Linked DNA regions of Homo sapiens: region 1 is linked to region 2. The links come from fine-mapping of genetic effects on gene expression. A gene starts in region 2. The other region holds a variant in brackets. All regions are shown on one strand. Distances are from middle to middle.

Region 1 (15,659 bases), 49 kb after region 2:
ATTATTCAAAGGGAGTTGGAACCAGAGTCAAAGTGTCACCCCAATCTAGAAAAGCTAATATTGCTTGCTGTCTATACTTTTGTATCCACCCGTCATATGCTTACCCCAGGCTGTGCTTATTCAGCTCTTATTCTGTGTTACTCCTGAATTAGTCTGTAGCTTTGAGACAGTACGGACCACCCATCTTTGTTTGTCTTACAGCTACCAAAGCATCTGTAGCCTAGTAGGTGCTTAGTCAACATTTCTCAAATTAAATTTAGTTATAGTAGAGCTCTATCATACATGGCTAGCCTCTCCTCTAATGCTGACATCTATGGGACTTAAGAGTTTGTGATCCTTCCTCCTCTAGTTTCATTTATTTTCTTACTGTGTGTATTCTCTTTTGATTTAATAAACTCTAATGTCCCTAATGGGCTATGTACTAGATTAATGATTTTTTTTTAATTTAATTTTTTTGAGATGGAGTCTCACTCTGTCACCCAGGCTTGAGTGCTGTGGCGTGATCTTGGCTCACTGCAACCTCCGCCTCCCAGGTTCAAATGGATTCTCCTGCCTCAGCCTCCTGAGCAGCTGGGATTACAGGCAGGTGTTACCGCACCTGGCTAATTTTTGTAATTTTAGTAGAGACGGGGTTTCACCATGCTGGACAAGCTGGTCTTAAACTCCTGACCTCAGGTGATCTGCCTATCCCGGCCTCCCAAAGTGCTGGGATTACAGGCATGAGCCACTGTGCCCAGTCAATGATGATGTTTAAATGAAGTTCTCCTGAGATTCATGACCATCTGAGTTTGTTGTCCTTCAGTTACCACAGAGACAATATGCCCAAGTCTAAAACCTACACCTCCTGTCGCATTTCCTCTGATGGTGAACCACTGTACTGTCTTCCCTGGGGCCATCCTTCTTTTCTGTTCTCCACGTGTTTGTACAGTAGACATTCATTGAACATTGTAAAAATACCAAAAAAGATGCAGAGATCATAAGACATATTGTCCCTGTCTAGAAAGTGCTGCCGTCAATTATGGAACATATGTTCACACAGCTCATACTGTAATATAAAATACAAGGCATTGCTGACCATTATGACATTTCAAAATCAGTTACCAGTATCTAGACCTTCTTATATCCTATTTCCCGCAAATGCATACATCTTAAGTAAACTAATTTGGATGTATTCACATGCATTACGAAGGAAGGGTTTATTAGAGTTTATATATGGCCATTACTAAAGTTTCCTTTGCTTTACCTTGTATTCTTTCTTCTTCCTTATTTTAGGATAGTAGTGGTACATTGTACTGTATCAGGCTTATTATCAGAGCGTCATCTTCAGCATGTTCCCTGCCTTAACTCTGCATGAGTCACCAGGTCCTATTAATTTGGTTCTTTCTCCTTAATATCCCTTCATTTCAATCCTTTCTAAGCATTATTAATATCATTCTTTGCTAACATATTTAACCAAGTTCTTTCTCTGCCTTCATTGTGGACCCATCCATGAAGTGCCAGTCTACACTACTGCCAGAGGCAATTTCTAAAACCGAGATCAACTTTTGTCATTCTTCTTGTTGAAATAATTCAGTGGTTCCCCATGATGTTCAGAAGCTGGACTAGGTCCTATATGATCTGACTCCTGCCCTCTCTTCCAGCCTCTTATTTCGCCATTTGCTTCCTTGCCTCCCTTTCTCCTCGCCATCTGTATAGTTAAGAGTGCGAACGCTAGGGTCAAATTATCTGGGTTCAAATCCTGGCTCTGCCACTTACTAGCTATGTAACTTTGGGAAAGTCACTTAGGTCCTCCTTCTTATCTGTAAAATGGGAGAACTAGTAGTTCCTATATTATATAGTTATTGGGAAGAGTCAATGTGTTAAATGCTTACAACACGGCCTGGCCCATAGCAAATAATTAATACAGACACTTCTCCACTTATGATGGGGTTACATCCCAATAAACCCATTATAAGTTGAAAATATTATAAGTCAAAAATGCACTTAGGCCTGGTGCAGTGGCTGACTTCTGTAATCCCAGCATTTCAGGAGGCCAAGGCAGGAGGACTGTTTGAGCCCAGGAGTTTGAGACCAGCCTGGGGAACGTAGGGAGACCCCATTTCTACAAAAATCACAAAATTAGCAGGATATGGTGGTACACGCCTATAGTCCCAGATACTTGGGAGGGGCTGAAGCAGGAGGATCATTTGCACCTGGGAGGTCAAGGCTGCAGTGAGCTACGATGGTGCCACTGCACTCCAGCCTGGGCAACAGAATGAATACCCTGTCTCAAAAAAAAAAATGCATTTAATACAACTAACCTACAGAACATCATAGCTTACCTCCCTAGCCTACCTTAAACGTGCTCAGAACATTTACATTAGCCGACAGCTGGGCAAAATCACCTGGCAAAAAGGAACACTGTCAAATCTCAGTTGTCTACATTCATGATGGTGTGCCAACTGGGAGATGTGGCTCTCTGTGGCTTCCCAGCATTGTGAGAGAGGATCCCACCGCATGTCATTAGCCTGGAAAAAAGATCACAATTCAAAATTCAAAGCACAATTATTACTGAATGTATATCACTTTGACACCATCATAAAGTCAAACCTTCATAAGTCTGGGACCATCTGTATATATTTCTGTGCGTGTGTTGCTGTTATTGCTGTTGTTATTCATTTATTGGCTTTGTGTCTTTCTTTTTGCATATGCTGTTTCATATGCCTGGAATCACCCACTTCTCCTTTTCACCTGGCTGACCCCACTCATCTTTTGAACTTCCGTTTAGGTGTCAGCCCCTTGAGGGAGCCTTCACTCCCCCTTCCCACTCCAGGCTGGATCAGTCGCCTATGTGCTCCTGTAGCACCGGCGCACACCCACATCATAACATTCTTCACACCAGATAAGGGGTATTGACATTGTGATTTTGAACACTGTTTAGATCCATGATAATTAATAATTTGCAATAACACAAAATGATTATTTTATAATGATTGTATGAATATATGATTACAGTATTAGTCCATTCTCAGGCTACTAATAAAGACATACCCGAGACTGTGTAATTTATAAAGGAAAGAGGTTTAATTGACTCACAGTTCAGCATGGCTGGGGAGGCCTCAGGAAACTTACAATCATGAGTGGAAGGGGAAGCAAACATATCCTTCTTCACATGGCGGCAGCAAGGAGAAGTGCCAAGCAAAAGGGAAAAAATTCCCTTATAAAACCATCAGATCTCTTGAGAACTCACTCACTATCATGAGAACAGCATGAGGGTAACCACCCCTATGATTCAATTACCTCCCACCAGTTCCCTCCCACAATACATGGGGATGATGGGAACTACAATTCAAGATGAGATTTGGGTGGGGACACAGCCAAACCATATCAATTCTATTATTTTTTAGATGATTATATCAAATAATCTTGATTCTTGGTATTAAATAAGGCAAGGCATGAGTTTGGGGAATCACATTAGCTCAGGATGTATCCATCCCAGAAGTAAAGTTCTACTGCACTTTAATTTTCTGTTTATTTGTATGCTTCAGATATTAAATTCTGGGGTCCTGAATGGGGTGAGAGCTCTTTTATCTGTATCCCTAGTGCCTTACATCTGCCAGAGATTCAGTTAATATTTGTTGAAAAGATGAATGTGTATTTTTAATTTAATACAGAAATTTTTTTTTTTTCAAAAATCTGGCTTTGCCCCTGAGCCATGGTTTGTGGTGCTGACCCTCTTCCCAGGAAAATACACGCATGGCTTATTTCAGAAGGTTTAAGGTACAGACCTTGCCCTAGAAGATGGCCTCCTGTTTAGTCAAAGAGAAGAGAAGAAGAAATGTGTTTCTTTCAATACTAAATATGACTGATTTAATAAAAAGTCTCAATTGGAATTCAACTCCTTTTAGATATATACGACCCCATTCTATCTTTGCCCAGTAACTTCTTGGAGAAGGTGATATGATTCATGCACTTTAGACAGAGGCAAATTTGGATCCTAATTTAGGAAAAAGAAGCAAAATCAGTCATATTTGTAGGTGTTTTGGGTGCCTGATTTGGGCGTATAGACAAGCCTCCTGCCCAGGTAGCACACATATGCCTCCTACTTCTACACTAGCTACAATTCCTCTTCTCATTGGTACTCTTACTGATGGGGGCGTTGAAGACTTTGCCTTTGGTGGCTTATCTGAGGGGTCTAACACATTTAGGCACAAATGCCTGAAGGAAAGGCGCATAGACAACCACATTGTCTGATGACAGTCGACTGCCCAGGTCAGAGCCTGGCAGGGTAAGTCCGAACAGAGAATCTTTAGCTTTACCCTGTCATAGGGACTCAGTTAGCAAACATCATCTCTCTTATAATTAAGGTAGGCTCTAAAATTGCATGAGGAAAGATAAGATGCTTTGGTAGCTCTTTCAAAATGCTTCTTAAACGCACTTCTAAAAAGTTAGCTTCTGTGGCTCTCAATGGCACAGATCATGTGCCTACATATGAGTGAGATGTAGCTGGGGTTAAAATCTATAGGCAAGTTCTGAAGACTAGAGAGAAGTTTTCCAAAGCACATCCAGATCATTGATTCTTAAATAGGGGCCAGGACTAGGGTTGGGCTGGTGTAGGGGAATGTTGGGGGAAGGCACACGCATCTCTGAGTAGAAAACCCACACGCACCCTGCCATCGTGAGAATCACTGGGTGTAATAAGAAGTACAGTTTGTGGCAGTGTGGTGAACACACAAGTGATAAGGAAACTAGGAAAAATGGTTGCAGGCTGGGACTTAGATTATGGTCCATTCACCCCACTTGCAGACAAGCAATTAGGGTCCAAGGTGTTATAGGATGGGCTTTTCCTATCATATCAGGCATCTCTCGAGATCTCATTGTATATCACAAGACCTCTATATTACAAAGTGGTTTTTGGTGCATTATTTTTTTAATAACTAAAAGCCTTTTGATGGGTTTCATAACAAACTCTTATGAAGAAGAAAAATGTGAACAATGATGAATAACTACGAGTACTTATCAAAGTGACAAGAAAGTAGCTAGTAATATGGAAAATATTGAGCAGTCCAATTGTACTGGAATGATTTAGTACAATTTAGTAATATTGTCTTAGGTAGTATTTATTTAATTAAGCCCCTGGAATCAGAGATGACTCTCAATGTTAGCAATTTTCCCAGGAACAAGATGAAATCATTCAATTTAATTTTAGGAGAAAGTATTGTATGTTTTATAGAAAGCTTAGGAATTGATTTATTGGCCTATTGATTTGAACTGCTCTTATAATTCTGGCACACTCCACATATTAACAATTCTTTCTAATCCCTACTTGGCTGGGTAATTTATGCATAGGTCAGGAAGTCAGCCTGGGCTGTAGCTGGCTCCATATACATACCATGTGAAATGACATTTAGTATTTGTTTTCTTCCTGATAGGGCCTGTGCTTCCTTCAGAGACTCACACAAGAGGTTTATCATGAGAAGGACCGCACTATTTCATTTCACTCCTACAAGTTTTCATTTACGTTACACATTGAGAAAGTTATGAGAAGCAACTGTCACTCTCTGGAGGTGGAGACTGCCGTGATTCACAAAGACAAGAGGTAATTTTCCTGTAATCACAGGATGACTCAGGTTAGTAGCTTTCAGCGCTTCTGCAACTCACATACCATGAGGTGTTTTTAGCAATGTGCATATTTAGTGAACCTAATTCTTCCCAATCCCTATAATTTTAAATTTATGACAATGTGATATAAAGTAAGTTGGAATTTATTTTTGCATGAGGTGGAAAACAGTATTTGAAAGTAGTTGTACAGGGTATGTAAAAATTATAAGAACATATTTAGCATTTTTAGAAAGCAAAATACTTTTGTAGGACTTAAACATATTTTTAAATGAGATTTTTATCACACAAAAGTTTACAATATCATTTGTACTTGGAAATGATATATAGATGTTAAGTGTGAAGTTGCATGTATTAAAAAGTAAAATGAAAAAGCTATGCATTTTGTAATTAGGTCTTTTTTATAATGTAAGTTGTCTTTTAACTGTTCGGACCAACTTGCATTTTCACTTTAGAATTGTAGTTTAAGTGTGTCTTTGAAATTTAAAGCAGAATTTTATGCTCTCTCTTTTTTAATTCTGTGTCTTCTGTGGCATTTATAATAGGAGAGCCATTTCCAATATTTGTATTTCTTTTTAGTTATGAAAAAGTGACCATCGTATGCCTAGATTGTACCTATAATACAGACCTGGCTGGGCGCATTGGCTCATGCCTGTAATTCCAGCACTTTGGGAGGCCGAGGCAGGTGGATCACCTGAGGTCCGGAGTTCAAGACCAGCCTGGCCAACATGGTGACCCCGTCTCTACTAAAAATGCACAACTTAGCCAGGCGTGGTGGTGGGCGCCTGTAATCCCAACTACTCGGGAGGCTGGGTTAGGAGAATTGCTTGAACCCAGGAGGTGGAGGTTGCAGCAAGCCGAGATTGCGCCACTGCACTCCAGGCTGGGCAACAAGAGCAAGACTCTGTCTCAAAAACAACAACAACAACAGACCTCTGGGGCAGCAAATCAGAAAACACAAAATAAAACTGGAAAAGCTCAGTCTTGCTTTCCTCCAAGTGCCCATTGACTCACAGCTGGCTCTTTAGGATTTATAACCAAAGAGTCAAGGACCAGCTTGTACAGAGTAAAGTATTGTTGTTTTGCAGAGGGAGCTAAGAAACAGCTCCTTGATTCATTGGATCTACAATTAATTATTGAGTGATGCTCTGTGTTCTGCACTATCCTAGGCTCTATGATGTACAGATGAGACATAGATAGAGATATATAAAAACATCACATTTCCATCTCTGCCGTCCAAAAACTTATAATCTATTTGGGAACATATACAGAGTTGAGAGTTCATGACAGTATCCGGAAAAATGTCCTAAGAGTGATAGAGATAATAAATTTGCAGTGTATAGAAGTCCTGGGGCCGGGCACAGTGGCTCACACCTGTAATTCTAGCTCTTTGGGAGGCCTGGGTAGACAGTGCAGTGGTTCACCATCAGAGGAAATGTGATAGGAGGTGTAGGTTCTAGACTTGGGCATATTGTCTCTGTGGTATCTGAAGGACAACAAACTTAGATGGTCATGAAGCTCAGGAGAACTTCATTTAAACAGCATCATTGACTGGGCACAGTGGCTCATGCTTGCAATCCCAGCATTTTGAGAGGCCGGGTTAGGCAGATCACCTGAGCTCAGGAGTTTGAGACCAGCCTGGGCAACATGGTGAAAACCCATCTCTACTAAAATACAAAAAAAGAAAAAAAAAAGCCAGGTGTGACGGCATGCACCTGTGGTCTTGTGGTCCCAGCTACTCAGGAGGCTGAGGCAGGAGAATTGCTTGAATCTGGGAGGCAGAGGTTGCAGTGAGCAGAGATCATGCCACTACACTCCAGCCTAGGAGACAGAGCAAGACTCCATCTCCAAAAAGTAAAAACTAAAAATAAGTCCTGGAATGGATGATTTTTATCTGTAGTTACCCATAAATTCTTTATGCAGGAGGAAGAAACTGTGCTAGACTTTGCAGACCAGTAGATTTTGGCAGGAGGAAGTGATAGGAGAGCATTGCCGGTGAGAGAGAATAGACTGCTGGCTTCAGCAAAGACCTGAATAAGGTCCTGAGCAAGTCCCTCTCGGGAAAAAGTGAGTAGATTTGTGTGGATACAGCTGAGAGTCTGAGGTACTGTCGTTGCACGATATAAGACTGCAAAGTGGACTGGACCAGGTCAGGGAGGGTTTTCGTGACAGACTGAGGAGTGCAGGTGCTATCCCGTAGGCAGCAGAGGTCCCCTGAAGGGCTTTCAAGAAGGAGTGAATATTATCCAATGAGGTTGTATAGAAAAATTAACCCTGCACTGCCATGAAATAGAGATTCTAACCAACTTTCCTTGAATTCATAGAAGGAAAATCATGAATTGTAGCCAGCAAACCAGGAATGGCACATGTGCTATGTGGTTTACGCAGTTACCTTTTACTGTAAGAATGTATTGTGTCTCCAGCCAAGTGGACATTAACAGAGAAGGTTGTGTTGCCAACTCCCATCTTTATGAATATATTAGAGGGGATAGATGTGGGGGGTGCAGAGACAGCAAGAGGAACAGACAGACCAGTTAGACTAGCTGAGATACTAGGGGATGGCAGTACAAACAGAAAGACAGAAAGGGGGCAAAGGTGCCAGCACTGTGACAACTTTGATCTTCTAGGCTGGCATTCCAATAGCACATTGCTATCTCAGCAGATTCTTTTGCTCCAGTCAGAGTCCCTTCATCCATTTGTGATGAGTCCTGTTGGCAACCCTAGTGGCCATGGTACATCTCTTTCACTGTGGCCCCCACTGGGGTACATGCTGTG[A/G]TTGTGAAGAAGCATTCAAGTTTGTAATACTTTAGTCCTTTGGCTATACATGTCAAAATCAACTAAAGCAAGAAGGAGGATTTGTTGGGAGTGCCTAAGTAGCTGGCACAATAAAAGGAACTGCTGCAAACTAAACCTCGGGAAAGTTACAACTTGGGATGAGGCATGAGGATCTTTTCTTCAGGGCTGAGCCATCAGCAGTTCTGCTCCAACCTCTTGTCAATTTCCTGGGCGAGGGAGAATAACTGTCCGAGACTGGATCATGTGCCCACCCCACTGCCACAGTCAATGTGCCTGGCAGGCCCCAGTGACACTTGGAGTCTGAGAGAGGTGCAGTTCCCCAAAGGAACAGAGGATAAACAGAAGCTTTTAAAAGTATTTTAATCTCTAAAACGTCTGCGACTGCAAATAGTGGTCATATGTGTGTGCATGGTCTCAGGCTTGGGAACGGATCAGGTATTCCCCAGAATCTTAGATCTCCAAAATTACTTTTCACTGCTACCTCTGATGGACCCTCTGCTCTTTCAAACTAATGTTTTGAAAAAAATAAAACTTTTTTATTTTTTAAGAAGATACTGATATTGACTAGAAGGTATTGACTAGGCAATACCTTCATGCCTGCATGCCTCTAGCTGCATGGATTAAGTGTCTTTTCTCTTTCTCCCTTTCCTTTCTTCCCTTCGGTAGCGCTCAGCTCTTCAAACACATCAAGTGCCCGGAGGTGACTTAATTTATGCGTCTTAGCTATGTTGGAATTCTCAAGTTTGCTACTTTCCCTGAAAAGCAGGCTAAGAGGACCTTAAAAGCAGAGTGGCTTGTCCACCTTTGGGGAACCCTTGAATTGATTCTTCTTGCAAGTGCAATTTAAACGACAAGAAACGAACATTTTCTTTTTTTTTATTTGAGACGGAGTTTCGCTCCTGTTGCCCCGGCTGGAGTGCAGTGGCACGATCTCAGCTCACTGCAACCTCCGCCTTTCGGGTTCAAGCAATTCTCCTGCCTCAGCCTCCTGAGTACCTAGGATTATAGGCATGCACCACCATGCCCGGCTAATGTTTGTATTTTTAGTAGAGACGGGGTTTCTCCATGTTGGTCAGGCTGGTCTCGAACTCTCGACCTCAGGTGATCCACTCGCCTCGGCCTCCCAAAGTGCTGGAATTACAGGCGTGAGCCCCCGCGCCTGGCTGAAAAGAACATTTTCAAATCTTGCCTACGCTTCCAGGCTGAGTTCCAAGGCGCAGCTCCCGACTTCTCATGCATTCGTTTGAAGATGTGTCAGTTTACACACACAGAGGGCTCACTGAAAATTTCCCTTTTTAATAATTTCCTAATACTGTGGAAATGAACATAATAAACTGCAACACAATACAACTCTAGACTTTCTAGAGCAAGAATTGTTAACCTTTGGCATTATTTTGGGTTTTAGTTTCTTAACACAAAGCTTCAAGCAAGTTTCAGCTGCAGTTAGAAGCAGTCAAAATGTAATTTCCATTAGTGATAAATGTGTAAAAAGTTAAATGAGCAATTGATATTTGATTATATAAATCTAGTTTGAGTGCTAATTGGAGTAGATATAAACAAATTTATACAAAGTTATATATTTTTTACCTTTTCTTCTCTCTGTTCTTTATACATATTAAGTCATAGCTCTTAGCTCTTTGTCTGCTTTCCTTATTCTCCATTTCTGGCTTTCTTTGCACTAACATATATGAACCGCATGATAATCACTCAATACATATATTAATTGCCCGTTTCTTCTCCTTGCACTTCCCCTGGTTTCTTTCTTCTTTTCCTTGTCATTCTGTCTTGATCCTTTTCTTGATTTTTATAAAGAAAACTTTACTGATACACATGTTTGTCTTCTTTGTGTTGTTTTTGTTTTGGGTTTGGTTTTTTGGGAGGGAACACTGATTCATCTATTAGTTGTGTGTGTTTCGGGAGATTAACCATCCAGATACCAATTAGACCCAAGTCATTGTTGTCTTAGGTTCTAAGGCTTTTAAATATTATAACATTTTTCAGAAAGATTTTATTCTCTGCAGACTAAAAAGCTCAGCAGATTTTTCCAATAACTGCACATATAAAGAGCCACATAAACAGTAGACTAAATATCACAGATGATCCACATGAGAGTAATAAATGAGGACACTAGTTTGTCCATACATTTTTCATAAGGTACTGAAATAACTGAAAATTGTCTTAACGAGTAACAGTAACCATGAAACAGCAAGATAATTAGAGAATGAAGGTAAGCAGCAATAGCAACCACCTGCTGCTACAAGCTGAGGATCATGTAGCCTCCTTCCTGGACCTTTACACAATTTATGTTCCCATCTATTTATTGAGATCAGTAATCCTCATACATTATTATAGTTGTGCTACTTGGAAGCTGTGGCTGGCACAATTCATCCTTAATTTCACTTTGAGTTATTGAGTAAAGCTATTCAATGTGTAATAAGATCACAAATATAAGGTAGGTAAAATGAATTTCCTTCCTCTCATCATACTGATGAGTCACTTACCTGGTGCCCTAACTGAAACAACTTCTTTACTGGGAGCAAATGGACTCTATTCTTGGCTGGTTACTGGATAATCTGGCATTAGACATTATCTCATTTAAGTTACTTATTTCTTCAGTTAGATTTCTTCTGAGGCAAAACTCTCTCAGCACTTTCTGTATATACTATGACATAATCTTATTGAATGGGGATACTGCTTTGACATTTCACCTGATCTTTGAACCCAGTGATCTCCAATTTCTAGCTGCCCAGAAGGCACTGACTGGATGGCATTCATCCCTCATGGGAATGGCAGAACACAGATGAGAGAGGATACTCTGCTCAGTTTTAAGTTCTAACATGGTTTAAAGTACATAACAAGGCAACTGCCTCAAAGCAAAAGGGGGTTTTAATTGAAATATACATGGACCAAAGTGCATATATCATAAATGTACAAATAAATGAATGAATTTTTCATAACCTGAGCGCCCTCATGTAACCCGAGCCCAGATCAAGAAACAGAACATTATCAGCACCCCAGGACCACCTCCCAACCCCCAGTGCTCCCTGCCAGCTGCTACCCCAGGCAGCCTCTATCCCACTTCTAATGGCCCACATTTGTTTTATCTGTTTTTGTACCTTCTTTATTTTATTTTATTTTATTTTATTTTATTTTATTTTATTTTATTTTATTTTATTTTATTTTATTTTATTTTTTATTTTCTTTGATCTATCTATGGGCTCATGTTTTTGTACTTTCCATAAACGGAATCCAACAGTGTGTATTCTTTTGTGGACTTCCCTTTTAATATGATATTTGTGGAATGTATATCATTTGGATGTTTGTCCCCTCCAAATCTCATGTTAAAATGTGACCCCCAATGTTGGAGGTGGGGACTATTGGGATGTGTTCGGGTTATGGTGGTGGATCCCTCAGGAATGGCTTGGCATCCTCCTTATGGTAATGGGTGACTTCTTGCTCTATCAGTTCACATGAGAGCTGGTTGTTTAAAGGAGCCTGGCATCTCCTCCCCTCTCTCTTGCTCCCTCTCTGACCTTGTGACACACGTGCTCCTCAGTCACCTTCCACCATGAGTAACAGCTTCCTGAGGCCTCACCAGGATCCAAGCAGATGCTGGTGCCATGCTTGTACAGCCTGTAGAACCATGAACCAAACAAACTGCTTGTCCTTATAAATTACCCAGGCTCAGGAGTTCCTTTACAGCAACACGAAATGGACTAATATAGGGACTGATCCATATTGTTGCATATGGTTGCAAACTTCCATGCTACCCTGGTAGCATTTCATTCTATGAATATACCACAATTTATTTGATCATTTTACTGATGATGGTCACATGTGCAGTTTCCAGATTTGTGCTACTTCGAAGAGTGCTTCTTTGGATATTCTAGCATATGTCTTTTGGTGAATATGGGTGTCCATTTCTTTCGGATATATGTATATACTTTTAAGAGTGGGGTTGCTGGGCCATAGGCTATGCATATGTGTAGCTTTAGTTGTTGCTGTCAGGCGGTTTTCCAAACAGATTGAAACAATTCACATTTCTTCCAGTGGTGTATTAGAACTCACCGATTCCATGTTTTCACCAACACTAGATATTCTTTGTGTTTTCCATTTTACCCATTCTTTTGTATAGGTGGTGGGATCCTATTGTGGCTTAAATTTGCGGTTCCCTGATACTAGTGAAGTTAAGCCCCTTTGTGTGTGTTTCCTGCCCGTCTCCTGACCATTATGAAGTGTCTGTTAAAGTCTCTCGCCCATTTTTCAATTGTGTTGTCTTCTATTACTCTGTGATTTGTAAGAATTGTTTATATTCTGGATACTACTCAATTGTCATCTGTATGTACTACGAATACTTCTTCACACTCTGGGTTGAATTTTCCTTCTCTTCATGGTGTCTTCATTTTAATATAGTCTACTTTATTTTTCCTCTTATGGTTAGCACTTTATATGACCCTTTGTAAGAAATTTTAACTTACTCCAAGGTCATGAGGATGTTCTGTATTTTCCTCTAAAAGCTTTATTGTTCTGTATGATAGAAAGAGGTTTTAATTCATAAATGTATGTCAGTATTTGGAGACAGAACTGTTCTAAAGCCACGTGTGTTTTCCATAGAGCTAAAACATAGAGGACTCACTACAGGCAAAAGTGTGGTACAGAAAGAAACTCAAGATAGAGGTAATAGAAGTTCCCATCACAAACAAATGAGAAATCCCTTCTGATGACAGGGCTAAGTGCTTACAGCCTATTACCCTGGCCTCTGTGCTAACTTCTTAGGAGGAGCAGGTATAAAAAGCACCGTCTTGAGGACATTTAGTTATAGCACCTCCTCCCTGGTGACAAGGAGCCACTCTTGGGGACAAAACAAAGCCTTCTTTCTCAGAGTTCACTAGATTTCTGTGGGTCAAGTACAGAGTGTCATCTCCTTGATGAGACAGTAGAAAAACCTTTTCCCTGGAAGCCTTTTCAGTTCCTCAGAATATTTTTACTATTTGCCTCTGGGTGTGAATATGTGCATAGCTTTCCAGTGATCATTAAGAAGCTGGAAAAACTTGGGAAAAAACCTTTTTACTTTTATTTGTCAACACATCAAATACTCAGAGTTGCCTTTGAAATTGTGGCTGTTGGATATATATGTTAATGTCCACCTCTCTATCCCTGTTTCTTTACCCAGAAACATGGCATTAAGAAAGATTGTTCAGGGGCTGGGCGCAGTGGCTCACGCCTGTAATCCTAGCACTTTGGTAGGCCAAGGCAGGTGGATCATGAGGTCAGATGTTCAAGACCAGCCTAACCAACAGGGTGAAACCCCGTCTCTAGTAAAAATACAAAAATTAGCCAGGCATGGTGGTACGTGCCTATAATTCCAGGTACTCAGGAGGCTGAGGCAGGAGAATCGCTTGAACCTGGGAGGCGGAGGTTGCAGTGAGCCAAGATCATGCCATCGCACTCCAGCCTGGGTGACAGAGGGAGACTCCATCTCAAAAAAAAAAAAAAAAAGAAAAGAAAAAAAAAAAGAAAGATTGTTCAGGGTGGGAGAAGATGGGAGGGGTGATTTATTGGGGGAAGGATATGGTCATTATCTTGAGTGTCTTGATGGTTTCACACATACATACACGCATACGCACACACATATGTATGTAAAAACATCAAATTATATACTTTAAATATATGCAGTTTGTTATATGTCAATTATACCTAAATAAAACTGTTAAAATATGATTTAAAAATTTAAAAGAAATATTGTTGAATTGGCTAGAGTTCCATCATTCATGAATTCACTAAACGTATTTAGACCTATTACATTTAGGGCCAGTGCTAGATATTATGGGCTAACCAAAGATGTGTATGAAATCTTGTTTCTTATTTAGAAGTTCAGAATCTAGTAGAAATACTTAAGCCATTATAATACTTTACAGCACATGACATATTTCAAGTGCTGTGGAATTAGGGAGTGTAGAGGTTATATTTCTTTGAGAAGGTGGAGAAGACTGTAGGTAGAAGTTGCCACTAGGCTCACAATATTAAGTTCAAAAAAGTAGGATGCAAAACTGTCCGGTTTTCTCTCAATTTTATTATAATATATCTCTACGAGAAAGAAAACTTTTAATCTTTATGAAGAAAAAAGGGGGAACTTATATGGTAACAAGTTGTCATCTAATAAAAACTGATGTATACTTTTCACTTTTTCATGATCTAGATATTCTACAGTTCATATGATGAACTGAGCTTTTTATTCCTTTTGGTGGGTGGGATTAGAATACCCATGATATCTCTCCATCAAGAGTTCTGAGGGACCCAGGCTGATGCCTCCAGGACAAGGAACATTTCATTGCAGTGATAAGGGATAGGGAACTTGGAAAGCAACACAGTGGGGTAATCCTGATCTTTTCAGATGACGTTTATGCCATAGCAAGTCACTTAGGGTTTATCTGAATTCAAGTAGGTAGAAAAATGTTAGCCTAATCACATGTCCAGGGAAGGAAAACTAAACATTTGTGACTTCTCAGTAGAACCCTGTTGCTAGTAGCAGGAATTGCCAATGTCCTTCTCTTTGTTTTTCTACCCTTTGGAAACATGCCAGGCCACTAACTCTCCTGTTAGTTTTCTGTCACTTTCTGTCCTCTCTTCCATCCTCCAAGAAATAAATGCTGGAAATAGGCAGAGTTTGTGGGGCAAGGGAAGGAACAAAGATGATTCAATGTCTGGGATCTCCTCTTCTGTGCCTACATCAACTTCCCCCAGCAAAGTTAGTTGTATCTTTGTCTACTCAGTCTCATTTATGTTTTTGTCATCACATTTACGATTTCTTTTGATTGCTAGCATTCAATTTTGGGGGTTTGTTTTAAGGTTACCTCGTAAGCTTTACAAGTTGCTTGAAAAGTAGCAATAAAGGTAAGATATTACAACACTATGTGTCAGCATCCTTGCACGCTAGTTATTTAAAGTGTAAAATAATCATTTCAAAATGTTAATTAAAAAAGCAGTTTCCCTGCCTTGGGAAAGGTGTGGTTGTAAGAAACAGAAGTGAGTTCAAGTGAAGAATATTTCAGGGCTAGAACAGGGTATGGATTTGAGATTCAAGGTTAGGAAATGAAGTACCTCAGGACGCAAGGCTGGTACTGTAAAATGAACAGGTTTCTTGGAGATGAGTGACCCTGAGCCCCTATCTAGAGCCTACATAGGGACTAGAACTAGAATATCATCTACTAGACTTCCCCAATCTTTCTGCCTTTCCCCCCACCATGTTATGAAGCATCACGGAT
Region 2 (15,659 bases):
TTTTTACCATTTTGCTCATATGATATACATTTCTTGATTTTATAATTGGGAAATAAATATTTTATTTATTTCATTTTTGAGACCAGGTTTTACTCTGTCACTAGGCTGGAATGCAGTGGTGCTGTCATACCTCACAGCAACCTCGAACTCCTGGGCTAAAGTGATCCTCCCACCTCAGCCTCCTGAGTAGCTGGGGCTACAAGCACAGGCCACCACCCCAGCTAATTTTTAAATTTTTTGGTAGAAGCAGGGTTTCACTATGTTGCCCAGGCTGGATTGAAACTCTTGGCTCAAGTGATCCTCTTTCTTTGGCTCCCAAAGTGCTGGGATTACAAGCATGAGCCACTGTGCCTGGCCTAGTTTGTTTTCTATTTATAGTACTACTTACTGAGCCTTCAGCAATAGAGTAGGCGTCACCAATTGCCATCTCCCTCACTTCTCCCTAAATAATGATATTCAATTTTTCACCTTCATACAAGCATAGATTTGTGACTAATTATAGAAACCATAAGGGAAAAAGAATATACGGAGGGATAAGTGTCCAAAAACCCTGTCTTTCCTGAAATAATTCAGCAGTATTGATTTAGAGCAGTTGAATCATTACCACCCCTTCTGTAAATATATCAGTCAAGACAGAAATAACTTCTGAGAACTGAGCCTCTTCCTACTCAGAAGTGCTGTGACTGAAGGTAACAAAAATCATTAAAAACTTGAAATTGCAACAAAAGGAATTTAGATTAAATTTAATGACAAATTTTCCCGCTGTGAAAGTTATTAAATACTTGAAGAATTATAAAACTGTGAACATTTATATTTAAAAAATGCACCTCTCTCAATCATCATTAATAATACTTTAGCAATTCCACAAACATTTTTTGAGTATCTACTATGTTCCAAGTTCTGTGCTTGTCACTGGGAAGTATAAAGATGAATGAGACATGATCCTACACACAGGGAATGTATCAAACCTGTGAGAGAAATGAAATGCACCAATTCATTCATTTGTTGGATAAATATTGTAAATGCCAACCATTGGGCATTAGGGATATGATGGTGACCAGCACTCGACTATGGATGTGGAATAAGGGAAGAAAATTCTGTGATGGGTTACAGTGGAGCAAGATTATTTTGCCTGTGATATGAAACAAAGCTTTATGTAAGGGGCATTTGAACTCTGTCATAAGTACAGTTTTAATAGATAAAAATATGGAAAGAGGAAATGTCAGGTTGAGAGAACAGTATGAGGGAAAGGAAGAGAATGTGATAGTAGAGGGTGTGTTGGTATGTACCTGAGGCAGAACTGAAACTCAATACATGATAAACACAATAGGATGCTAGAGGCTATCACTAACAACCCCTAAATCTCAATAGCTCACATCACAGTCACATTTAGAATTCAGACTGTGATCTTCTACATGGAGATTCATGAATCTCTTGGGTCTCTCTTCCTTACTAATTCTACCTGTATTCAGCAGACAAAGAGAGACAGAGAATGAAAGAGCAAGAAAGAGAGATCATGACATAGAGGAGGCTGTACAGAGTGAGCACTAGAACTTGCCATGCATCATTTCTGTCCACATTCTATTGGCCAGAACTAAGTCACATGGATGTGGTCCCACTTAAACACAAAGGAGACTGGGCTATGTAGTCTCCTGCGTGCCCAAGAGGTAACTGAGCCTAGTTTGTTGATCACTTAACGTTATCTCTGCCACAGAGACAATATTATCTATAAAGACCAATTTATTTAAGAGGACTATTGTTTAGTGTTTAAGTAATTTGTATTTAGTTACTGATACATGAAACATGAACAACATTATGTACGTTGCAAACAACTTTTTTTTAATTTTCTTTTTTTTTTAAGAGACAGGATCTTGATATGTTGCCCAGGCTGGAGTGCAATGGCGATTGACAGGCACAATCATAGCACAGTATAGCCTCAAACTCCTGACTTCAAGAGATCTTCCCACCTCAGCCACCCAAGTAGCTGGATGGAAGCAAATATTGAATAACTATTTTACAAGATGCACTCGACTCTGAAAATGCAATAAATGATATAATTACTGAAGGTGCTTACAATTTAGACAAGGGAGAGGACACACAGAGTGAGAGAATTACAATATAATATGGCATATGGTAAATGACAATATACAAAGCAACACTTTATATGATTTTAATTTATGATTCATATAATGCTATTCTGAAAAAGAAGCAAAATATATTGTTATTTGGATTTCATTACATAGTTTTAAGGTAGGCTTATCGTATTCTCCAAGCATAGACAAAATATATTGGCCTTTAAAAAATCAGACAAGTGCAAATGAAAACTGAAGACCTTGATAAACAGACAGTATTATTTACTCTCTAAGGAAAGATACAATTCACATAGCTGTCATGGCGATTTAGTCAGTACACCTGAAAAAAGTTACTTGATCTCTTGACAAGTTAAAAAAAAAAGATTTTGACATTTCATTTGAATCATTTACATTTCTCACATAGAGAAAGTTTACCATAATCATTAAGAATATTGGCATTAGAGTTAGATGCAAATCATTTCAAGTCACAGCCCAGCTTTTTGTTGGCTTGGGGCAAGTTCCTTAACCTCCCTTAACCTCGGTTTCCCCCATTTGTGAAACAATAGGGATCATAACAATAATAACACTAATGCTTCCTCAGGATCTCCTGAGGATTACATGAGTTAAAGCTCCATTGTATTTCGTCCACCACAGGGCACATTATAAATACTTTTTAAATGAAAGATTATGAGAGTGTTAAAAATCAATGTTTTGTAGATTATTTAACAACACGATATGTTGCACAAAAAATGCAATTTAAAGTAAAAATGAATACAATGTAATCCCAACTTTGACTGACACAGACAGACAGAAAAGAAATGCACCAAAATATTAACAATGATGTTTGTAGGTGGTACAATTATGGATGTTTTTATATTCCGGGTCATACAATTCTGAATCTTCAGAAGTTTAGGGGTAAACATTTGTTTCTTTTATTTGCATCGTATTATTTCGAAAATCCCTTACATCCCTTAAACTTTGTATGCATACATAACTGCTTTATTAACATGATGTGATTCCATCTGTTATTTTCTCCTAAAGACAAGGCCACCCTGAGGAAACTCTTGACTTTGCTCTTGCCTTAGAATAATTGGCCAGCAACGTTAAAAATTCATCTGCTGAGAAGCAAATAGGTGTTTTGTTTGTTTGTTTCTAGTTTTTTTCTTAGTCAATAGTAAAAACATAACATACCTTTTCAAATCCTCATTTTTTTCCCCTTTTTTGTCTAATATTTCCTGGATCCTGAATGAATACATATTGGAATAATTCCAAATAATTTCTATTGTTAAATTTTACTGACATTTAAACATGACAATTGGAGATATCAAACTCTAGAACCCCAAACCATTGCAGAGTTTCTTTAAAGCTGAAGCTAAGGTATACAGAGTGCATACATTTATTTGGCTTTGTACATTTAGGTATAAATTGCAATCTTGAGAAAAAGTGTTCATTTTTGTTTCCATTTTAAATAGCTTTCTCTTTTGCATGAACATTTCTTTAAACATTTTTTAATTGACAGATAAAATTGTCTGTAGTATATATAGAGTAGAATGACTAAATCTAGCTAATTAACATATGCATTATCTCACGTAGCTATCATTTTTGTGGTGAGAGCACTTAACATGCACTAACTTAGCATTTTGCAACAATACAAGATGTTATTAACTATGGTCATCATATTTACCATAGATCTCTTGAAGGCATTCTTCCTATCTGACATTTTGTGTTCTTTGACCTATATCCCCACCACCAAATTGCAACAAAAGGAATTTAGATTAAATTCCTTTTTTAGATTCCACATATGAGTGAGATCACATGTTTTTTGTCTTTCTGTACCTGGCTTATTTCACTGAACACAATACCCTCCAGGTTCATCCATGTTGTCACAAATGGCAGGATTTTCGTCTTCTTTTTTTGAGACAGGGTCTCCCTCTGTTTCCCAGGCTGAAGTGCAGTGGTATGATCATGGCTCACTGCAGCTTCGACCTCCTAGGCTCAAGCAATCCTCCTGCCTCAGCCTCCTGAGCAGCTGGAACTACAGACACACGACCACACCAGCCTAATTTTGTGTGTACGTGTGTGTGTGTGTGTGTGTGTGTGTGTGTGTGTTTTGGTAGAGGCAGAGTTTCACTATGTTGCCCAGGCTGGTCTTGAACTCCTGGGCTCAAGTGATCTGCCCCACCTCGGCCTCCCGAAGTGCTGGGATTACAGGTGTGAGCCTCTGTGCCTGCCTGCCTTTTTTTTTTTTTTTTTTTTTTGGCTAAACAGTGTGCATGAACATTTCTTGAATCTTGATTACAAAATTACAAGTTAAACTTTGTGTAAACAAAATTTTCTTTTAACATGTATTAAGTTTGAATATAGGAAAATTGTGCTTGACATTTTTCTTAAATTGTGTGCTCCAGGTTATGCTGATCCGATTTGTAATCAGATAGAATTGAGAGAAGTGACCTATGTTACCTTACAGTTGCCTGTATACGTCCTGAATAGTAAATGTAGAAAAGCTTTGCTGTGGGGAAAGAAAAGAGCCACTGTCCAAAATCATGGATGAATTCTCTCCTGCAATTAAGAAAGTGATGGGCCATCGGAGAAATGCAAATCAAAACCACAGTGAGATACCATCTCACACCAGTTAGAATGGCTATCATTAAAACGTCAGGAAACAATAGATGCTGGAGAGGATGTGGAGAAATAGGAACACTTTTACACTGTTGGTGGGACTGTAAACTAGTTCAACCATTGTGGAAGACAGTGTGGTGATTCCTCAAAGATCTAGAACTAGAAATACCATGTGACCCAGCCATCCCATTACTGGGTATATACCAAAAGGATTATAAATCATGTCGCTTTAAAGACACATGAACACGTATATTTATCGCGGCACTATTCACAATAGCAAACACTTGGAACCAACCGAAATGTCCAACAATGATAGACTGGATTAAGAAAATGTGGCATATATACACCATGGAATACTATGCAGCCATAAAAAAACGATGAGTTCATGTCCTTTCTAGGGACATGGATGAAGCTGGAAACCATCATTCTGAGCAAACTATCGCAAGGACAGAAAACCAAACACTGCATGTTCTCACTCATAGGTGGGAATTGAACAATGAGAACACGTGGACACAGGAAGGGGAACATCACACACTGGGGCCTGTCGTGGGGTTGGGGGAGTGGGGAGGGATAGCATTAGGAGATATACCTAATGTAAATGACGAGTTAATGGGTGCAGCACAGCAAGATGGCACATGGATACATATGTAACAAACCTGCACGTTGCGCACATGTACCCTAGAACTTAAAAGTATAATTTAAAAATAAATAAATAAATAAATAAATAAATAAATAAATAAATAAATAAAGGACGAGCCAAGGAAACTTCCCACCCGTCTGGCCCTGAGCAGTGACTTCAACCTCTGTGCTATTTCACCTGCAATCTTCTCCTGCGAATGGCATTTTCTCCCGTTTTGTTGTTTTTGTTTCCTGATGGTAATTTATTTTTCTTTTAGACAAACTACAAGAAAAAAATAACTTCTCTGACCTTTAGTGCCTGTTTTGACTGCTCAGTTGGATTTTTAAAATGCTTCTAGTCATCTTTCTACTGATAATTGTTATTTGTGGCAACCTCATGGAAGAAGCTAAGGCACAAAATATAATTTTAAAGCGTTTACTTGAGCCAAGATGAGGACAGCTGCCTGAAAGACTCAGACCCAAGTAACTTTGGATATGAGCTTCATTCAACCTTTCTTACAAGCAGGTTTTTAAAGGCAACAAGGCAGACAAGTTGTCAGGAATTCCCATTGGTTAACAGAAATGACAATGATTAGTAATTAGCTATATATTTTTGAACTATAGGATATTAGTTATGGTGTCCAGTGCATGGCATTGTTAGGTTAATTTACAGCTACTTGTGGCGACAGTCAGTCTAGAGCAAGCAGATTCAAGAGATGATTAGCTTAGCTCCAGGGGAGAAGTGGGGCCTGACTGCTGCCTCATTCCCTTGCCTCTCTGGGCCTGATCATTTACAGGAGGCTTGCATTCCTCGGATAAAGTTTCTTTTCTTTCTCATTTGCTTATTCTGTTTCCTTTTCTTCTTTCACATTAAATGGGAAGAAGAAAGTACAAATTCCAGTTCAACAGGTATGTGCAGTCTTATGCCGAAACTAGGACGCCATTTTCCTGGATTATCCATGAAAACATTTTTTCATGGTCTCCAAGGCGGATTCCCTGTTCTGGTCTCAGCTGGATCCTTCAAATAAATTGGATGAAACCAATCTTTGCCATCTCTTTCTCGCGTTATTTATACCTTGACTTGACTCCTATTCCAAACATAACCAGTTTCATCACCAGTACAGAAGGTGACACCATCGGAGCAGGAAAGAGAAATAAGAGCTGCAAAGCCTGTGTTGTGAAAATACTAGGCTCATTCTTTGTCCAAACACCTGAAAAGACTGTGTATTCTGCCATTTGCCAAAGTACATTGTCATATCACATCAAAGAACCCCAGCCCAGGAGGGGACATTGAGGTGTCTGACACGACTTCCTGTCTGATGTATGGGTACCCTCTACAAACATCACCAGTAAACGAGCTGCCCTCTTCCTCTGCCGATCCAGAGACAAAGAGTTGTGCCTCTTGCAAAAGCTCTGCTTTTATGCAGTTCAAACTTTAGAAATCTCTTCCTCTAGTTGAGTCTAAATGTTCTTCCCCGTAACTTGCATTCACTGGTCCAAGTCTGCCCTCTGGAGCATCTCAGAATAAGTCTCCTTCCTCTTCCATCTCACAAGTTCTTCCTAAATTTTTCGGATGAATTAAATAGAAGCTTCTACCAACTATTAACTCCATACCCAGCCTTTTGAAATGCAGCTTGGAAAATGGGAAATTTTCCTACTGAACCTTTAGATCATAAATGGATGCAATAAAGAAAGCACCAAATTCCTTCTTTATTTTACAACTCTACAAATCTCTAGGGATGACATGAGCACAGGTGAGTGCACAAGTACACACAATGCACACACACACACACACACACAGAGTGACCCTATTTCTCCATTTTTCCTAGAGCTGACTTTCACACAAACCCAAGATTACCATTACGAATAGGTAGATATAATCAAGACACTTAGCCAGGGAGCCAACATTTGCCTTCACCTAACAAACAGAATGTAAATACAATAGGTAATTTATTTTTGACATAGACATAAAATAGCTTTTTACAATGGAATGATTTTCACTCCAGATCTAAGCAAAAATGCATTTTCTTTTAAGAATCGTGGGTGATCTCAGTGATTATCTGACTCAATGCTCTCTCTTTTTAGATAAGTAATTTAAGGCCCAGAGGTCTTGATTAAGATCAGTGTCACAGAACTCGGGTTATTTGAACTCTGAGAGGAAGGCTGAAGAAGATTAGTATTGTCTTGCTTGCTCTCAGAAGATAAGAGCTGTGCTTTGACAATTGCAAATAGTTTTCGAACAAAATTTTCTTATGGCACAGCTTTCTGAAACTATTTTACAATGCGTTAACTTCTAGTAACATACATTAGGATCTAATCTTAAGTATTAATTTATTTGAAAATATCTCAAAACTTGTATCCCCCAAAAAGTTCAAAATATATCTCCAGAGAAAAATAAAAACCAACTATCTCAAAATTCACCCTTTGTTTTCCCCAGAATCAAATCTCTAGGGATGACACGAGCACAGGTGAGTGCACAAGTGCACATAATGCACACACACACACACACACACACACACAGAGTGACCCTATTTCTCCATTTTTCCTAGAGCTGACTGTCATACAAACCCAAGATTACCATTACTAATAGGTAGATCTCATCAAGACACTTAGCCAGGGAGCCAACATTTGCCTTCACCTAAAAAACAGGATGTAAATACAATAGGTAATTTATTTTTGACATAGACATAAAATAGCTTTTTACGGTGAGAATGATGAGGTCATTGTGACTTCTACACTTGAAACAATTGGACTTTCTCGTACTTTTGCACTTGAGAATTTAAAATAATAATAAAGAGAACGAAAGAGTACTATGTTGGTACTGCTCCTCACATATTTCATTGGTAAGAGCAGTGATGAAATAGCAATAAAATTTATGAGACAAGAGTTGTGGCTATAAATAGGGATATGCTTTGCTCGCAAACTGCATAGAATCCCCTTCCCTTTAAAAAATATATAGAAGAGGCCAGGTGTGGTGGCTCATGCCTGTAATCCCAGCGCTTTGGGGGGCCAAAGTGGGTGGATCACCTGAGGTCAGGAGTTTGAAACCAGCCTGACCAACATGGTGAAACCCTGTCTCTACTAAAAATACAAAAAAATTAACCAGGCCTGGTGGCACGCGCCTGTAATTCCAGCTACTTGGGAGGCTGAGGAAGGAGAATCACTCGAACCTGGGAGTCAGAGATTACAGTGAGCTGAGATTGCACCACTGCACTCCAGCCTGAGGGACAGAGCAAGTCTGCCTCTCTCAAAAAAAAAAGTATATATATATATATATATATATATATGAAAATAAAATTCCATCACCTAGAGAAAATCACTAGTCACATTTTTGTATGGTTGTCCAGCATTTTCCCCTACATATATGTAAATATACTATATAATGTTAAAATATTGGGGTGAAACTGCTTTTTATTTAACACTGCATTGTATCTCCAGGTCATTAAATTGTCTTCAGGATCATGGCTCTGCATTTTTTAACATGTAGTTGCTCCCTTATTTATATAACACATTCTCTGTTGGTGAAATTTATTGTATTTTTTTGCAGTTTTTCTTTTCCTACCATGACAAATAAGCTCATCTTTTCCAGTCCTTGTTCATTCAAAGCTGGAAACAAACAACACACACACCCAAATCAGACCTGAGATTCTATGCACAAAAGTGCTTCTTGAAACAAATTATCTAATAGTATTGTAAAAAGAAAAAAAAAGAGATAAAATAAGCCAAGTGATATGTGTCACTCAGTGTTCCAGCGAAAAGCTGACTCCAAAAATTACGTGATCATAATAGCAGAATGATGAAAGAGTGACAGACAAAAGGTAAGAGCATGAGGATGAAGAGGTAATACTCAAACAGCTTTGGAAATGGAGAGGAAGCTGGCGAATGACACAAAGGACAGCTGGAGGATGAACCAGTTTCCCAAGGGGCAAAAGAAACAATGTTGTTTGACATCTTCAGCAAACATTCCAAACTGTAGGGAAGAGGGATGATGGGTTTGTGTTGGTGATAACAGCAAAGTATTAAAGCATGCCTAAAAACTTTCACCATAAAGCAACAATTATTCTTGGTAATGCTACCAGGATAACAAGTTTCTACATGTTGTCATGCTGGCAAAGAAAATAGGGTGTATTTAGAGATTAGATGCCCCATGGACATGTGGTCATGGAAACAAAAGCAAACAGCTAACGTGGCTATGTGTTGAGGTCAGTATTTGAGGGAACATCCGGTGTGTGTTTTATTCAGTATTGTGTAGTACAGAAAAGATCACACATGTATATGTCAGAAGTAGATGCACATGTTCTTTTGGCTTTTTTTCTTTGTTTTATTCTTTTTTCATTTTTTGTGTTTTTTGTTAGTTTGTTTTGAATTTTTTTTCTTGATGCATATGTTCCTTCAACTTATTCAGTACTTCCATGTGCAGGGCTCTGGACTAGACTTTCAGGATCTAAGGCTGAATCCTACACAGTCCTCCCTCTGGGAAAGTGATGAAACCTGTGAGCTCTCCTAGCAACTCTGCAGTCTTCCTTCAAGGTATGTGTTGCAATTTGGGGTTGCACATTTTAGTTGTGATATTTGTGATTAGTTGATTAATGTTTGTCATCCCACGAGACTATAAGTGCCATGAGGGTAGATATCTTATCTGTTTTGCTCCCCATTGCTTTTCTCACAGACTGCTCAGCAATGAATCTTTGTTGAATAAAATAATACTTTATACAAAGGTTAGTGATAAATGTAAGAAGCATCTAGATCAAGAACTGATACATTCTTAGGACAGAAAGATTAATCTAGACAATAGCTTTTTGTCTGGAATTATCTTTTATGGAAGAGACGGCCTTGGCAATCAGAAGAGCAGATTAAGCAATTAGTGTAATCATCTAGGTGGGAAGTAATGGGACATAAAGAACTAGAATAGAAACAATAAGAAGGGAGCAGAGTTGATAAATAAAAGCAGTACAGATACAAAATTGTCAGACGGTGGTCACCCATGGGCTATGAAGGGCAAGAAGAAGCAGAGTCTAAGAATGTGCCAGGTGACTGGGAGGACGGAGATTGTAGAAGAAAGAAAAGGGCAGCTGCTTTAGGTGCACGGAGGGCGAAGGACCTCAGGTTCGAATGTGTTGATGTCACCCTGGTGGAGATGTCAAGCAAGATGAGAGCATGGGATCTGCAGGTTTATGAGAAGACCAATTCAGAGAAACAGAATTTTGAGAAATCTACACAGCGTTTTTCCTTGCAGTTAGAAAGGTGGATGAGGTTGTCTAGGGAGATTATATAGAGAGAAAAGCAGAGGACCAAGGACAGGTGCTTGAGAAATGATGAGACTTGGCAGGACTACTTTTTTAAAAGTTCAGGAAGAAAGAGAAGAAGTGGCATTTCTCTTTTTGGTGCATAAAACCCTATAAGAGAAGAAACCATCCTATTCCCAATGCCAGGAAGTTCCCTATGTACCTTGAGAAGGTCTTCCAGGTTTCAGAGGTGTGGAAGATATCAGTTCCTTGGATAAAGGCAGCAGCTACACACTTTCTAGCAGCAAAATGGCTGAAGAACTGAAGGGTTTAGGATTTAGGAGATGGCTACTGGGACTCCAGCCCGTGAACATCCCAAAATGACAAAGACAGCTCTTGGTTAGCATGTCTGTCTCTAAATTGTGCTGACTAATAAACAGCTGTGAGCTCTTTGATTCTCAGTCCATTCTGACTGGGTCACTGTGGGGAATCCTTTAAAACCAATGAGGCCATAAAGCTTGAGCTTTGCCTATCCCTGTTGTTGGAATATTTTGTCTCCAGTCTCCTAAAGATCAGTCTGAGAGACTGGAACACACCTCACAATTTCTTCCTGCAATCTGAAGTTAAGCTCACCCGGGTCTACCATTCAGCCTGGTGATGATTCCACTTCCTTATGCATCAAGATGTTATCATGCTAAACTAGCTAAAACCACTAAAAAAATATGGGATGACTTGGAAAGGTGGAGAAAAGTGGGTAAAAATACAGTAATTTTTTTGGTAAGTCTCCATTAAGCTAATAATAGGTAAGCACCCTCAATGGCTAAGAGCCAGTACCTTAGACCACGTCCTTGAATAAAATAGATGGTCAAGGCTGAAGTGAATGAAATGGTGACATAAGCATCATGCAGCACATTTTGAGGCTTATGGCAACACATGCATATTAATGCAAATATGTGCATTGAGTTCTAAGTGCTAAGGACTGTGATAGCCAATGAGGATAAGTAAAATAATGGTCAAAAGCTTTAGGAAAAGAACTTACGTGAATTCCTTACTTAAATGCCATAACTTAAGAGACTTCAGGTGTGCAGTATTTATTACATAAGCTGGAGAAATTTCATGCTTTGCTAGGCAACAGCCTTGTAGTCCACAGGACATGCTAGATAGCTCCTTTGGTTGATTGAATTGGTCACATTTGGAAAGTGTGCAGCCTATGTATAAGGAAGCATTGGGGCTGCCTTGCTCAGAAACAGGCAGTGAGTAAGGCAGGCATTCAAGGAATCATGGCCGGCCATCTGTAGCCTTAAGAGGTGTGTGCCAGACCCAGGGAGTTGACTAATAAAGAAACTGAGTTAACTGAGAAAGGTCATAATAATATTATATAGTACTGTTGCTCCTTGACTTACGATGGGGGTTACATCCTAATAAACCCATTGTAAATGGAAAGTGTTGTAAAATGCATTTAACACACCTAACCTACTGAACATGATAGCTTGGTTTAGCTTAGCCTTAAAATGTGCTCAGAACACTTACATTAACCTGCAATTGGGCAAAACCATCTAAGACAAAGCCTATTTTATAATAAAGTGTTGAATATCTCATGTAATTTATTGAATCCTGTAGTAAAAATGAAAGACAATGGTTGTATGAGTACTAGAAGTATAACTTCTTGTGAATATGCATTGCTTTCAAATCATCATAAAGTTGAAAAATTGTAAATGAACCATCGTAATTCAAGGAACATCTGTATATATAATATATATAATATATTCTGTTATATATAAATATATGTATGTATATAACACATAATACAATAATTTATATTATATAAATATATTAAAATATATAATACATGTGAATATATATTCATATTGCATATATATTTACATTGCATATGAATATATAATATATAAGTATATAAATTATATGCATGATATAATAATAAAATGTAATGATAAAGAAACTTAGTTAACTAAGCAACACACAGTGAAGTTAAGTGTAACATTAGAAAAAAACAGAAGGCCAGGCACGGTGGCTCATGCCTGTAATCCCAGCACTTTGGGAGGCCAAGGCGGGTGGATCACGAGGTCAGGAGATCGAGACCATTCTGGCTAACACGGTGAAACCTCATCTCTACTAAAAATACAAAAACTTAGCCGGGCATGGTGGCAGGCGCCTGTAGTCCCCGCTACTTGGGAGGCTGAGGCAGGAGAATGGCGTGAACCTGGGAGGCGGAGCTTGCAGTGAGCCGAGATCGCACCACTGCACTCCAGCCTGGGTGACAGGGCAAGACTCCGTTTCAAAAACAAACAAACAAAAAACCAGAAAAACACGTGTTCAACGTTTCATAGTTGTCTAATTTCTGTTGAGACTATGGCCAACACACTTTATAATTCTTCCTCAGAGAAAACGTATTGTTTCTACATAGACTCTACTTATTAATAACAATCTTATGTGTGGCATCACTGGCCTGTTTGTATTGTTTTCTTTTTCTTTTCTTTCTTTCTTTTTTTATATACAAAAATCTCCATTCTAAGAACTCAAGTTAGGAAATGCCATAGGATTGGTTATGACTACCGAGAGTAAAAATCCACTGAAATTTTAAAAAACTGAAAAACGTTAAACCTCACAAATAATGAGAAAATAATGCAATAAACCCCCATGTGTACACCCAGCATCAGCAACTGTCAATATTTTGACAGTCATTTTTTATCCTTTCCTCCTTTTTGCTGAGATGTGAAAGTGAAATTCTCTGGTACAAAAATAACATAAATGGCTTAAAAGTCTAGCTATGTTTCTCTGGTGTACAAATTTTCTTTACAGTACATTTTTCTTTCCTTTCCCACAACCATTACCCAAATTCTACTGGTGGTCACTGAAATGCCGCTTATGATGGCCTCAACTAGAAAAATCTCTTTATTTTTCTACCTGCCTCCAAACAAGAAAGAAGTTGGTAACTCATGTCATAGTTCACAAGTCTCTAGGGATTCTACATGTCTGCTTCAAGCCGTCAGTGAACTTTCAGAAAACAAATGCAAATATTTTACATTTGTTTATTATATAAGGGGGTTTCAAAGCTTCTATCAACATTTTCATAGGGGCCTATTACCTACAAAAGGTTAAGAATCTCTGCCTCTATTATGTCTTGAAAGCATATCAAATATACTTTCTCACTTCCACTCCCTAGTTAATTCTATTTATTTATTTACTTATTTTGAGATAGGTTCTCTGTCACCCAGGCTGGAATGCAGTGGTGCAAGCACAGCTCACTGCAACTTCAAGCTTCTGGGCTCAAGTGACCCTCCTGCCTCAACCTCCTGAATGGCTGGGATCATAGGCATGCACCACCACGCCCAGCTAATGTTTTGTATTTCTTTCAGAAATGAGGTTTCACTATGTTGCCCAAGCTGGTCTCAAACTCCTGGCCTCAAGCGATCCTCCCACCTCAGCCTCCCAAACTGCTGGAATAACAGGCATGAGCCACCTCACCTAGTCCTTAGCCAATTTTTTATATCTAAATCAGACATTGGACACCACTTCCAGGATGCCTTCCCTGACAATGTCACCTATAACTGATTTCCCTTATGTTTTCCTACAAAAGTTAAGGTAGGTTACTTTCCTGTTTATCACAGTCTTTCAATCACTGGACGAGTATTTATCAGGTCCTACTATTTGCCAGGCACTATCCTATACTTTAGGTATGCTTTGTCTCCTAATGCACTGTTAGAAGAGGACAAGGAACATCACAGTATCCAATACGTCTTCTGTGTCCGAAGACATATTGTAGTTGTAGCTCCAGTGAATGGAAGCAAGGATGAGCTGCTGCATTTCTGTAGCTGGCATTCAGCTCAAGAATACGTAAAACCAGACTCGTGGTTTTTTCTTTCTTTCTTTCTTTCTTTCTTTTTGAATGTGAGGCCTTTACAGAAAAAGAAAATGTCAGTCTGATTATCCAGGGCATGAGGATAAAGAGAAGCCCAAACAAAGGTTTCCCCCACTCCACCCCACCCAATATACTGTGGCACTAGAAAACGATTCCAGAATCAGAAACTATATGCTGACGTCCATTAGCCCTCTTAGTAGCACCTGAAATAGACCAGCGTCTATGTGAGACCTGTAGTTGTGTCCTCACAAATAACCTGTTATAGACCAGCGTCTATGTGAGACCTGTAGTTGGGTCCCCATAAATAACCTGAACTGGAAACAACAGCTCGACATGAACTCTGCCCCCTACGCTGGGGATCAGGAGCACGAACCTCTATACAAAGGGCGGCAGAGCGGTTACTAAATGTGCTCATTTTTCGTCACTAAGAACGTGCATTTTTAAAGTGCATAGATCCCTGATGATAACGGAGTTGTTTGATAATAGGCGGTTGAAGATACTATTACGTTAGGGACCTGGAAGAAAGTAGTTAACGCTATTGTCATAGAAGCAATGGGGGGAGGAAAGGTTTGTGTCCAGTTTTGGGCAAAAACTTCTAAGTTCCACCCCGCCTTCTGATGGATGCTTTTTTGATGGGGCTCGTTTTGCAAAACTCAGCAGATTAGGCATGTTGTGTAGTGGAATGATTTGGAGCGTCTAAGCCGTGGCACCCTACTTAACCCCCCCATCTCCAGTTATCCCAATGAACCGACCCCGAGGGGGCATTTCCGCTGAAGTCCGGGGCTGTAAAAAATTAAGTGAGAAGAGCCGCGCTAAAGCCAAGCGTCGTCGTCACCCAAGGTACTGCGCTGATGCGCTGCGGGCCGACCAGGTGCTCCCGCCGGGGCGTCTTCTCCTACGCAGGAAGGGCCACGCCGAGAGAGGCAGGCAACAAGGGCACGGCTGGAGGCCGGAAGGTCACCCCGTCCCCGGCGGGGCGGGCGCGGCCCAGCCTCACTTCCCGGGCACGTTCGGGCGGGGCGATTGCAGGGAACGGGGCGGGGAGGCGACAGTCCCCGGCTCCGCCGCGCGCCAGCCCGCCTTCGCTGCCCGGAGGCGCCGCAGGCCTGGGTTCCCGGACAGCTGAGCCCGAGCGCCGCCTCCCGAAAGGTGAAGGCGGCCCGGGGAGGCGGGGACGGTGACGGGGGCGGGGGCCGCGGGCGGTCTCCCGACGGCTGTCGCGGGGCCAGCCCAAAGCCCCCGATC

Direction of the effects. Positions count from the first base shown, and alleles are read on the strand shown. Sizes are in standard deviations (SD) of each study's normalised expression.
With allele G in place of A in region 1, the expression in thyroid of the gene that starts at base 9,546 in region 2 is higher (small effect, 0.30 SD a copy in GTEx).

The links. PIP is the estimated chance that this variant, and not a neighbour inherited with it, causes the effect.
Region 1: its variant is fine-mapped to the expression of TRMT9B in thyroid (GTEx, PIP 0.99).

The regions. Positions count from the first base shown.
Region 1 is chr8:12,985,423-13,001,081 of GRCh38, forward strand. It overlaps TRMT9B (tRNA methyltransferase 9B (putative)), which reads left to right. Exons shown (of 5, transcript NM_020844.3): 2 at 5,412-5,609. LOC124901889 (a long non-coding RNA gene) reads right to left here. Exons shown (of 6, transcript XR_007060829.1): 5 at 2,335-2,507. Among named protein-coding and RNA genes, the nearest start is that of TRMT9B, 48 kb to the left of the region's middle. The variant A/G (reference allele first, on the strand shown) is at 8,374.
Region 2 is chr8:12,936,128-12,951,786 of GRCh38, forward strand. It overlaps TRMT9B (tRNA methyltransferase 9B (putative)), which reads left to right and starts at 9,546. Exons shown (of 5, transcript NM_020844.3): 1 at 9,546-9,839. RefSeq lists enhancers at 5,763-6,302, 14,740-15,240 and a silencer at 15,412-15,561.